Homo sapiens: one gene and its partners. The protein of the gene in region 2 interacts with the protein of the main gene of each other region in a pairwise test. Each region holds a gene or a part of one and is shown on either strand. Other genes may lie near its edges.

Region 1 (3,151 bases), on a different chromosome or scaffold from region 2:
AAATATTTATAAATTGACTGATGGAAATTTTTAAATTTATGATGCCTTCCTATCCAAAAGCTTAATGTGTCTTTCCATGTATTCAATTCTTGTCTCATGTCCTTCATCTTAAAATTTCCTTCATCTAAGGCTTATGCATTTCTTATATAAATATATTCTTAGCCATTTTCTCTTGCTTTTTGTTGCTATTGAAAATGGGGTCTTTTCTTATACTCAGTCTTCCAATTATTGTCTGCATATATGAAGCCTGTTGATTTTGATTGTGTTAATTGTGTAAACGTTTTTCTGTTGATTCTTTTGGGTTTTCAGCTTACAATAACATCATCTGTGAATATTAAAGCTTTATTTTTTCTTTTCCAAATTGTAACCCTTCTATATTTTTCTTGCCTAACTAAATTAGCCAGCATCTCCAGTAAAATATTTTCAGTGGTATTGTGGGTATCTTTGTCTTGTTCCCAACTCTAGTGGTAATGTTAGTTTCAATTTCCTTAATCTAGGAGTCTGGGAATAGAATATTTCATGATTTTCTGATTTGCTGATATCTGAAAGTAAACACGTGCAATTCTAAAGCATGACTTTATTATAAATGTTTCGTGTGATGTAACTGTACAATTAATCATCCTGTAACAGAAAGATGAGATGAATAAACCTGATACATTTTTCTATCATCCATACTTCAAAGGACAAAAAATCATCAAGATGCACCATGCCTTGGATATCAGCTTTTATTTTGTATAACAAAAAGTAACCTTAATGAAGCAATAAATTACATGACAAAATTCAAAGATTAGATAAGGTGAGGATATTAAAAGTAAAAGTATTGAATTACATATACAAGAAGGCATTGACCAGTAAATGCATGGTTGCTTTTCTCCACAACACAGAATTCATAATATTGGAACACTTCTGAAAAACACCAATTGGATGAGGATCTTCAAGAAAGTCAGCCCAGTGTCAGGCTGTGAGTGGTTTTCCTGGGATGACTGGGGAATGGTTAGATCAGGATGATGGTGGGGTGAATAGGTTTGTTGATGCCTGTCTGAGCCTAGACTTCACAGTGAGGCTCCCCTGGCAGTGTGGGAAGCCTCGTTTGCCCCAGGCTCAGTTTCTTTGACTCCCTAACCAAGATTTCCACAGTGGCCATGAGTTCTTAGCCAGGTGAACAAGTAAGTTCCATGGCTCAAAATCTCAAAAGGACATTAAAGGAACTTTAGGAAGAGCACTAGTTAAGAGCATGCTGCCTGTCTCTGACTGTTAGGTTCACTATTACTTCACATTTTACCAGCTCTGTGCCTTAGAAAAAGGGAATTAGTCCTCTTAAGGCTCAGTTGCATCATCTACAAACACCTTCCTTATAAGGTTGATATGGGGATTATAGGATATGACTGTAAAGGGCTTAGCATGGCAAGGGCTTAGCATGGTACCAACCGTTACATGTTTCTGGGGTGGGGAAACCAGCCTTACTGCAGGGAAAGACAAGTTTCCAATAGTATATACTAATTTGGAGAAGGATCAATTCAGTTTTGAAATTTCAGAAAGTTGGCCGGGTGCGGTGGCTCACACCTGTAATCTCAGCACTTTGGGAAGCCGAGGTGGGGGTGGATCGCCTGAGGTCAGGAGTTTGAGACCCTCCTAGCCAACATGGTGAAGCCCTGTCTCTACTAAAAATACAAAAATCATCAGGGCCCGGTGGCAAATGCCTGTAACCCCAGCTACTTGGGAGGCTGAGGCAGTAGAATAGCTTGAACCTGGGAGGTAGAGGTTGCAGTGAGCCGAGATTGCGGGGCCACTGCACTCCAACTTGGGTGACAGAGAGAGACTCCATCTCAAAAAAAAAAATGAAATTTCAGAAAGTTGGATGGAACTGGGACTATTACTGATAGCATGTCCTAACTCAGGCCAGTGAAAGAAAAATGGGTGACCATTTGAAAGCCAGCATTCCAGCAAGGCAGACAGTATAATATCACACTTACATTCTCATAAAACATCCCAGTCAAATCAGATTCTAACTCATCATTTCCAGTATGTGCTTTTGCTTGTGGTCTTGGCTATCGCCAACATAAATTTCCATTGTTGTTGTTTTGATGCTTTTAAATCTAAGCCCTAACCTCTCTTGGATATTTTTATGTTCCCCTGACAAAAACTGCTGTATAGTATGATTGAGGATACACAGTCCTGTGTCTCCCAGGGTCAAAGTGGCTTAAGACAGTGGGCTTGTCCTGAGAAGGTTGTGTAGCCAGAAGAAGCACGCTGGCCCTTAGCGGACTTTCTGAATGATACTCTAAGACCAAGCAAAGACAACAGATGAGTTATGGCTTGTGGTTAAAACATGACTCACCTGCCCAAATACTTCAAAATTTGCAGCAGGGAAATGAACACACTATCTACTAGAGGTACCAAAGAACCCTTATTTCGGGTTCAAACAATTCAAGGCAGTTATTAACTTGCAGAATTTTCAAATACATCATGACCTCACAGAATTATTTCATGATGGTGTCTGAGTAATACAAAACACTTGGGCTAGTGACGGTTAAGATGTCTTGTGTCTGGGAGGCTTTTTGAAAAGACATATGTCGAAGTAGGAATTTGTTATTGGCAATGTGGCCAATCCTGACTCTTCCCAAGTTTTGCTTCACTGGAATTAACTCAAGGATTCCAAGTGCCATGTGACCAGTTCATAATTTTCTTTAGACACAATTATAAATAATTCAGGAATTTGGTTCATCATTGAAAATGAAGTCCAGGAACAAGCTAATTATACTTATTATTAAAATATGTAGAGTGTATTTTGCTCGAGATAAAGCCATAGGGAACACAATCAGCACATTCACATATTGTGCTTTTGCTTTGTTTCCTGGACCCCAGCCAATTGCTGGCTTAAGCATGGCCATCTCCTTGACTGAGGACAGAAGTGCTGCACAGCATGGAAGGCTGAGCAAAGCACCAGATGCCTTCTGGAAACGCCAGTGTGACTTCAGGAAATGACAAAAATGGTCTCATATCCGTGGATCCTAGTGAAGGCAGGAACCTCACTATCCCTAAACACATAAATGAGAACAGAAGCACAAACAGAACAACCACTGGATTAAATTTACCAATCTGTGGCAGGTAGTTATTAAGCTCAACACTCTGCAAAAGTGTGAGTGTGGTT
Region 2 (2,592 bases):
GGGCTTTCCTCAGTGGAGCCGTGAGCAGCATTCCGGCAGGAGTGAGAAAGGATGTTTCTGTCCCCGAAACCGTCTCTGTGCTGTAACCGCAAACTCTCCTGTGTAGGCTGCTGGGCCAGACACTAGTTTCTAAGTGGAACCCCACAGTTCCCGAGATCCCAACACTGTCTGCACAGCACGTGGTCTTGGGGGGCGCTGACCTTAACAAAGGAGCCAGCTACAACCAAGGCAGGTTCAGCGTGTGGCACACGTGTGCCGCGTGCTTGCTGTGGAAAGGGTGAGCACCTTCTGACCTTGCCCTTCCCTCACAAAGCAGAACGCTTGAAAGCGGAACAGCCTCAGCGTCAAAGGAAGGAAAATCCCAGGAGCGCCTGAGAGCTGTCAGTAGCGGTGCCTACGTTTTCCTTCCACTCAGCAATCCGGAGTCGTTCACTCTGGCATCAATTCCAGCACCTCACCTGGAGGCTGAATCCCGAAGAGCTGAAAGGGGTTTGGAAGTGGGAACTCTAGCAGAGATGCTTTCAAAGGACAGACTCAAATCCAGGATTCTGTTGGCTGATGGAAGAAGCAGAGCCCATATGTTAGTGGCTTGCTGTCAAAGAGAAAGAACCATTTAAATGTGATCCAGAATTTAGTGGGTCTTGGATGACAGGAGAGCTGCCCTAGGCCTAGTGTCCTACCCCTCACAAGCACTGTCCCCAGCTGCACAACCTGGGGGTGGCCTTGACGCTGGCATCCCCCGCCATCCATTTCCAGTCCATGATGATCTTGCTGGCATCCTGCTTTGAAAGCAGCTCTCAGATCCGTTCAACTCTCCCCGTCTCCGCTGCTGAGGCCGTCCTCACCCTCACCCAAATCCCTGCCAGAAAGCCTCCCTCTGTCCTCTCCTACCTGCTCCATTCTGCTCTCCACGTGGCAGCAGAGTGATCTTGTTTTTAAATTGAGACTACTTAAAAACCTCCAATGGTTCCCACTGCTCTGAGAATCAGACTGGTCTGCCCGGCCCTGCAACTGGCCCCGCCACCCTCGCTGGCCCTTCTCCTACCCCCAGGGCTCCAGGTGGCACGAGCTTTCCTCCGGGTGCCCTGCTGGGCTGTGCTTCTCCCACCCTGGTGCCCTCTCATGGCTCCTCCTCTGCCCAGAACACTCTTCTTAGGCCTCTCTCCCACCCACCTCTCCTGGGTCTCCACTGTCTACTTATCCTTTAGGTCTCAGTACAAGTTTACTTCCTCCCGGAAGCCCTGGCCCCCAGACTCGGGTGCATTACCACCCTGTCCCCAGTTCTAGTCTTTGTGTCTCTGTGAGGGTCTGTAAGTGTGGGTCTGTTTCCCGCCTCCTCGCACAGACTCCAGATTGTTCACTGCTGCACCCTAAGCCCTAGCACAGTGCCTGGCACCCTGGAGGCCCACGAATGGGCCTGGTGCCAGTCTGTTGAGTGCAGCTGTGGTGCCAGAGGAATGTAAGGGCTTCAGGGTTGAAAAGCTTTTGTTTCCATGGGCTTCCTATTTAGGTGCTTCTGAGAAGTGACAGCCTGCTGGCAGTCCTCACAGCCCTCGCTTGCTCTCAGCACCTCCTCTGCCTGGGCTCCCACTTTGGCGGCACTTGAGGAGCCCTTCAGCCCACCGCTGCACTGTGGGAGCCCCTTTCTGGGCTGGCCAAGGCCGGAGCCCGCTCCCTCAGCTTGCAGGGAGGTGTGGAGGGAGAGGCGCAAGCAGAACCGGGGCTGCGTGCGGCGGCGCTTGCAGGCCAGCTGGAGTTCTGGGTGGGCGTGGGCTTGGCGGGCCCCGCACTCAGAGCAGCCAGCGGGCCGGCCCTGCCAGCCCTGCCGGCCCCGGGCAATGAGGGGCTTAGCACCCAGGCCAGCAGCTGCAGAGGGTGTACTGGGTCCCCTAGCAGTGCCAGCCCACCAGCGCTGCACTCAATTTCTCACCAGGCCTTAGCTGCCTTCCCGCAGGGCAGGGCTCGGGACCTGCAGCCTGCCATGCCTGAGCCTCCCACCCACTCCATGGGCTCCTGTGCTGCCCGAGCCTCCCCGACCAGTGCCGCTCCCTGCTCCATGGTGCCCAATCCCATCGACCACCCAAGGGCTGAGGAGTGCAAACGTACGGCGCGGGACTGGCAGGCAGCTCCACCTGCAGCCCCGGTGTGGGATCCACTGGGTGAAGCCAGCCGGGCTCCTGAGTCTGGTGGGGACGTGGGGAACCTTTATGTCTAGCTCAGGGATTGTAAATACACCAATTGGCACTCTGTATCTAGCTCAAGGTTTGTAAACACACCAATCAGCACCCTGTGTCTAGCTCAGGGTTTGTGAATGCACCAATCGACACTCTGTATCTAGCTACTCTGGTGGGGCCTTGGAGAACCTTTGTGTGGATACTCTGTATCTAACTAATCTGATGGGGAGGTGGTGAACCTTTGTGTCTAGCTCAGGGATTGTAAACACACCAATCAGCACCCTGTCAAAACAGGCCACTGGGCTCTACCAATTAGCAGGATGTGGGTGGGGCCAGATAAGAAAATAAAAGCAGGCTGCCCGAGCCAGCAGTGGCAACCCGCTCGGGTCCCCTTCCACACTGTGGAAGCTTTGTTCTT
Region 3 (3,759 bases), on a different chromosome or scaffold from region 2:
CTAATACAGTAAACATAGATATTAACGCTCATAAACAAAAGCTTATTGGGATCTTCGTCAATAATGAGTGCAAAGGAGTACTGATTCCAAAAAGTTGAGAATCTTGGCCTGAAAAGGCATATTCCCCACAAATAGGACTGTGAATGAATGCATCCATAATTTTGATATGTTTTGTCAGTTTCCCAAGCACAAAAGTTGTACAATTTTGCACTCCAAGCAACAAATTAAAAAGATGTTAAACTTTTGGATCATTGCCCACTGGCTGGGTGAGAAATAGTGTATTCATATATTTTCAACTTCCATCTGTTATATTATTAATATGTCTAAGCCTTTTATTTTCATATGCTAAAAAACCATTTTCACTTCTTTTGCTGTGAAGTCTATGTTCAAGCCTCTCTCTCAGTTTATTCCATCAGGTTTGGCCTTTTTGGAGGGAGGGGTCAATTTTAAGAGAGAGCTATAGATCCAAGTTCCTGTAAATTGTGTGAGTTGCAAATACTTTCTCCCTCCTTCCTTGTTTTTGATGCTCTCATCCTTTCTTCTGCTTAGGTCTTTGAAATCCCTGCTGGTTTCCCGTGTCTTAGGTCCCTGAACATGTCCGAGATGACTCCACTGAGTCACCAAAACAAAGAAATTCACCAACTCAAATTTTTCCTTGAGCTCTCAGCAGCAGTTAACATAGCTGACCACACCCTTCTTCCTAGAATGTTTTCTTCTCTCATCTGTCTGCAGCTGACATTCCTCTAACTTGTCTGGTCTTGTTCTCCGTGGCCTTTTCTGGTCCCACATCCTCTGAACCTCTCAATCTTGGGGTGCTTCAAGGTTGAGTTCTGGTCTCCCAGTCCTGGTCTCTCCCTAGGTAATCTTACTCGTTTCTGAAGATTTAAGTTCCATTCTCCGATTTCAATCTCCTGCCCAATTCCCAACATTTTTGCAATAGAATGTCTAAGGAGCACTCAAAATTAACATATCTAAAGCCGCTCAGGATCTCAACCCAGTGGCTCTCTTCCCCCAAACTCATTCCTTTAGAGCCACAGTTTAAGCCTTCCTTTCACCAATTCAACTATTGTTTTCCAAATTTATATTCTGTCCTGCCCTCCTCGTCCATCTCCAGCTCCTCTCTGCTCAACCACCAGAATACTATTTTAAAACCAAAACCAAGTGAGCAGGTTTGTGGTCACTTTCTATGGCATTAGAGTAAGATCGAAGTGGGTAATAACCCCGTCCTATACAATCTGGCCTCCTGCCTTCTTCTGATCTCTCTATAGCTTTCCCCCATCACTGTCAATCTAGCTGCCTCTAATTCATCACAGCCCTTCCCCCTTCCGTGGCCAACAGAGCTCTTCTCTCATATTTTTGCAATTCCAGCTGCCTCTTCTTTCTTCTCTTCAGTTCTCAGCTCAAATGTCTTCCCAAGAGAGACCTTTCCATCACTACTCAATTTGAAATACCTTCCCACTACTCATCTCCTTATTTTATTTTCTTAGTAGCGAAAAGATTTTATCTTTCTATGAACAAGTTTACTTGTGGGTCACTCTCCATCCATAAGAAACTAAGTCCTTGAGATGCCCTGTGTCTACATCTGACATACTCGATGCACAATAAATATTGTAAACGATATTTTATGTTAAACCAGTAAAAATTGAAGGTGTAATGAGAGAGGGACAGAGACTAAATATTTTTACAGAAACAGCAAAGGAAAATTGACGAATTAAGTCCCCAGCATGTTGTCTACCCTTATTTTGTTTTTCCTAATATTTTTCTTCAGGCTTTTTCCTGATAACACACAGATACACACACACACACATAGATTCTAAGATCAAGTTTAGAAATCTAAAGAAACAATTATTAAGAAAATGATCTATAGAGAAAATCTCACTTACTTTCTTTGTAGCAATCCTGGGTATTTCCTTTTTTTTTTTTTTTTTTTTTTTTGAGACAGGGTCTTGCTCTGTCACCCAGGCTGGAATGCAGTGGCGCAATCTCGGCTCACTACAGCCTCGAGCTCCCAGGCTCAAGTGATTCTCCCACCTTGACCTCCTGAGTAGCTGGGATTACAGGCGCTGCACGACCACACCCGGCTAATTTTTGTATTTTTTGTAGAGACGGGGTTTCAGTATTTTTCCCAGGCTGGTCTTGAACTCCTGGGCTCAAGCAATCTGCCTGCTTCAGCCTCCCAAAGTACTGGGATTACAGGAATGAGTCACCACACCGAACCAAGGTATTTCCTTTAGGGAAAAAGCTGGAACAGTGGAGACTGAAGAGATTTTATCTGTTCAATTCCTCCCTCAGCCCCGCCCTCACACCATCAGGAAGGCGTCTGTGAAGTTTCTTATCATATTCACACAATTAATCTCATTAGAACCACCTGAGTTTATTAAAACGCAAGCCTCTTCACAGGGTCTCTGATTCCAGAAATCTACGGTGGGGTCCGTAATTTACATTTTTAATGGACTCCCAGAAAATGCTTAATAGCCCTGACCTTGGTTGGATAAATATCTTGTTTTATCTCCAGTGCCATGTACAGTGCCTAACACCTCTAGCTCCTTAAGGTTTGGGGTTTTCTTTCTTAATGAATCTAGTGTATATTGACAATTTCACAGGAAAGAAGCCTTCGAGCTAACACTCAAGACTGTGTTTGTTCCTTAGTAGAAAATAATGCCTGACTTGTTAGTTTCTAGAACGTTTGCTGGAGAAGTGTTCATTCCAGTATCTGTGGAAAGAAAAACCAAGAGTAGGGATAACTGCCTATGGAATCTGTCACAGATGGGAGGTCAGGGAACAATCCCAGATAATTCATACTTGATATTTGGCTTCAGTGAGGAGGAACTCTTCACAGCTTTCTAAGTTTTATAGTTTTGTCCCCGAGGGTTTTTATTGCATCAGTCAGTCAATCCCCTGCTAATCAAACCAGGGAGTTTTTTTCTTTATGCTGCTGACAGGATAATGAGAATTCTTCTGCTTTGCTTATCTGATCTTTCAGAACCTGGTTCTACCTTATGGAATCTCAATACACCGTTTCTCTTTTTCTTTTTTCTTTCTTTTTTTTTTTTTTTAGATGAGAGTCTCACTCTGTTGCCTAGGCTGGAGTGCGGTGGAGCGATCTCGGCTCACTGCAGCCTCCGCCTCCCAGGTTCAAGCAATTTTCCCACTTCAGCCTCCCGAGTAGCTGGGATTATAGGCGCCCACCACACCCAGCTAATTTTTGTATTTTTAGTGGAGATGGGGTTTCACCATGTTGGCCAGGCTGGTCTCAAACTCCTGACCTCAGGTGACCCACCCTCCTTGGCCTCCAAAAGTTCTGGCCACCGCGCCTGGCCATACACCCTTTCTCTTATCTCAGATGATTACCTACACCCACTCTCTTTTCCAAAACCCAATTCCCCAGCTTTCTTCAAATAGACCACATTTATTCCTGTGCCCCCTCCCCTCCTCAGCCAGTCCATCCTCCTTTACTTCTCTTATTTTTCTAATCCAATCTTCCTTTCTCTTCTAAGCCTGGGTACGGCCAACGTCTGTGAAGATACTCACACATACTTGTTGTCAGATACTCTGTCATTTACTCTCACCATCCCTTGAGCTTTCATAACTCTTGAGCTTACTCATCTTGACAAGAAAACTTTGTAATCTTTGAATCAAATGGAAAATAAACATCAAGCATATTGTCAGGTTTTGAAGTCTCTTAAAGCCTGTTTTAGAGTATTAAATGCTTAAATAAATACTTATTAAAGCCTGTTTTACTATTAAATAAATATTTAT

Evidence for each region.
Region 1: the proteins of CCDC92 (region 2) and DISC1 interact in binary tests that used the Homo sapiens proteins (3 or more experiments, as listed by UniProt).
Region 3: the proteins of CCDC92 (region 2) and TRIML2 interact in binary tests that used the Homo sapiens proteins (3 or more experiments, as listed by UniProt).

What each region holds. Positions count from the first base shown.
Region 1 is NC_000001.11:232,038,684-232,041,834, reverse strand, and holds the end of DISC1 (disrupted in schizophrenia 1 protein), read right to left. Parts: 3' UTR 563-3,151; downstream 1-562. UniProt on the Homo sapiens protein: Involved in the regulation of multiple aspects of embryonic and adult neurogenesis. Required for neural progenitor proliferation in the ventrical/subventrical zone during embryonic brain development and in the adult dentate gyrus of the hippocampus.
Region 2 is NC_000012.12:123,945,246-123,947,837, forward strand, and holds part of CCDC92 (coiled-coil domain-containing protein 92), read right to left. Parts: exon of another isoform or gene 459-2,592; intron 1-458.
Region 3 is NC_000004.12:188,107,360-188,111,118, forward strand, and holds the start of TRIML2 (probable E3 ubiquitin-protein ligase TRIML2), read right to left. Parts: upstream 2,245-3,759; 5' UTR 1,884-2,244; intron 1-1,883.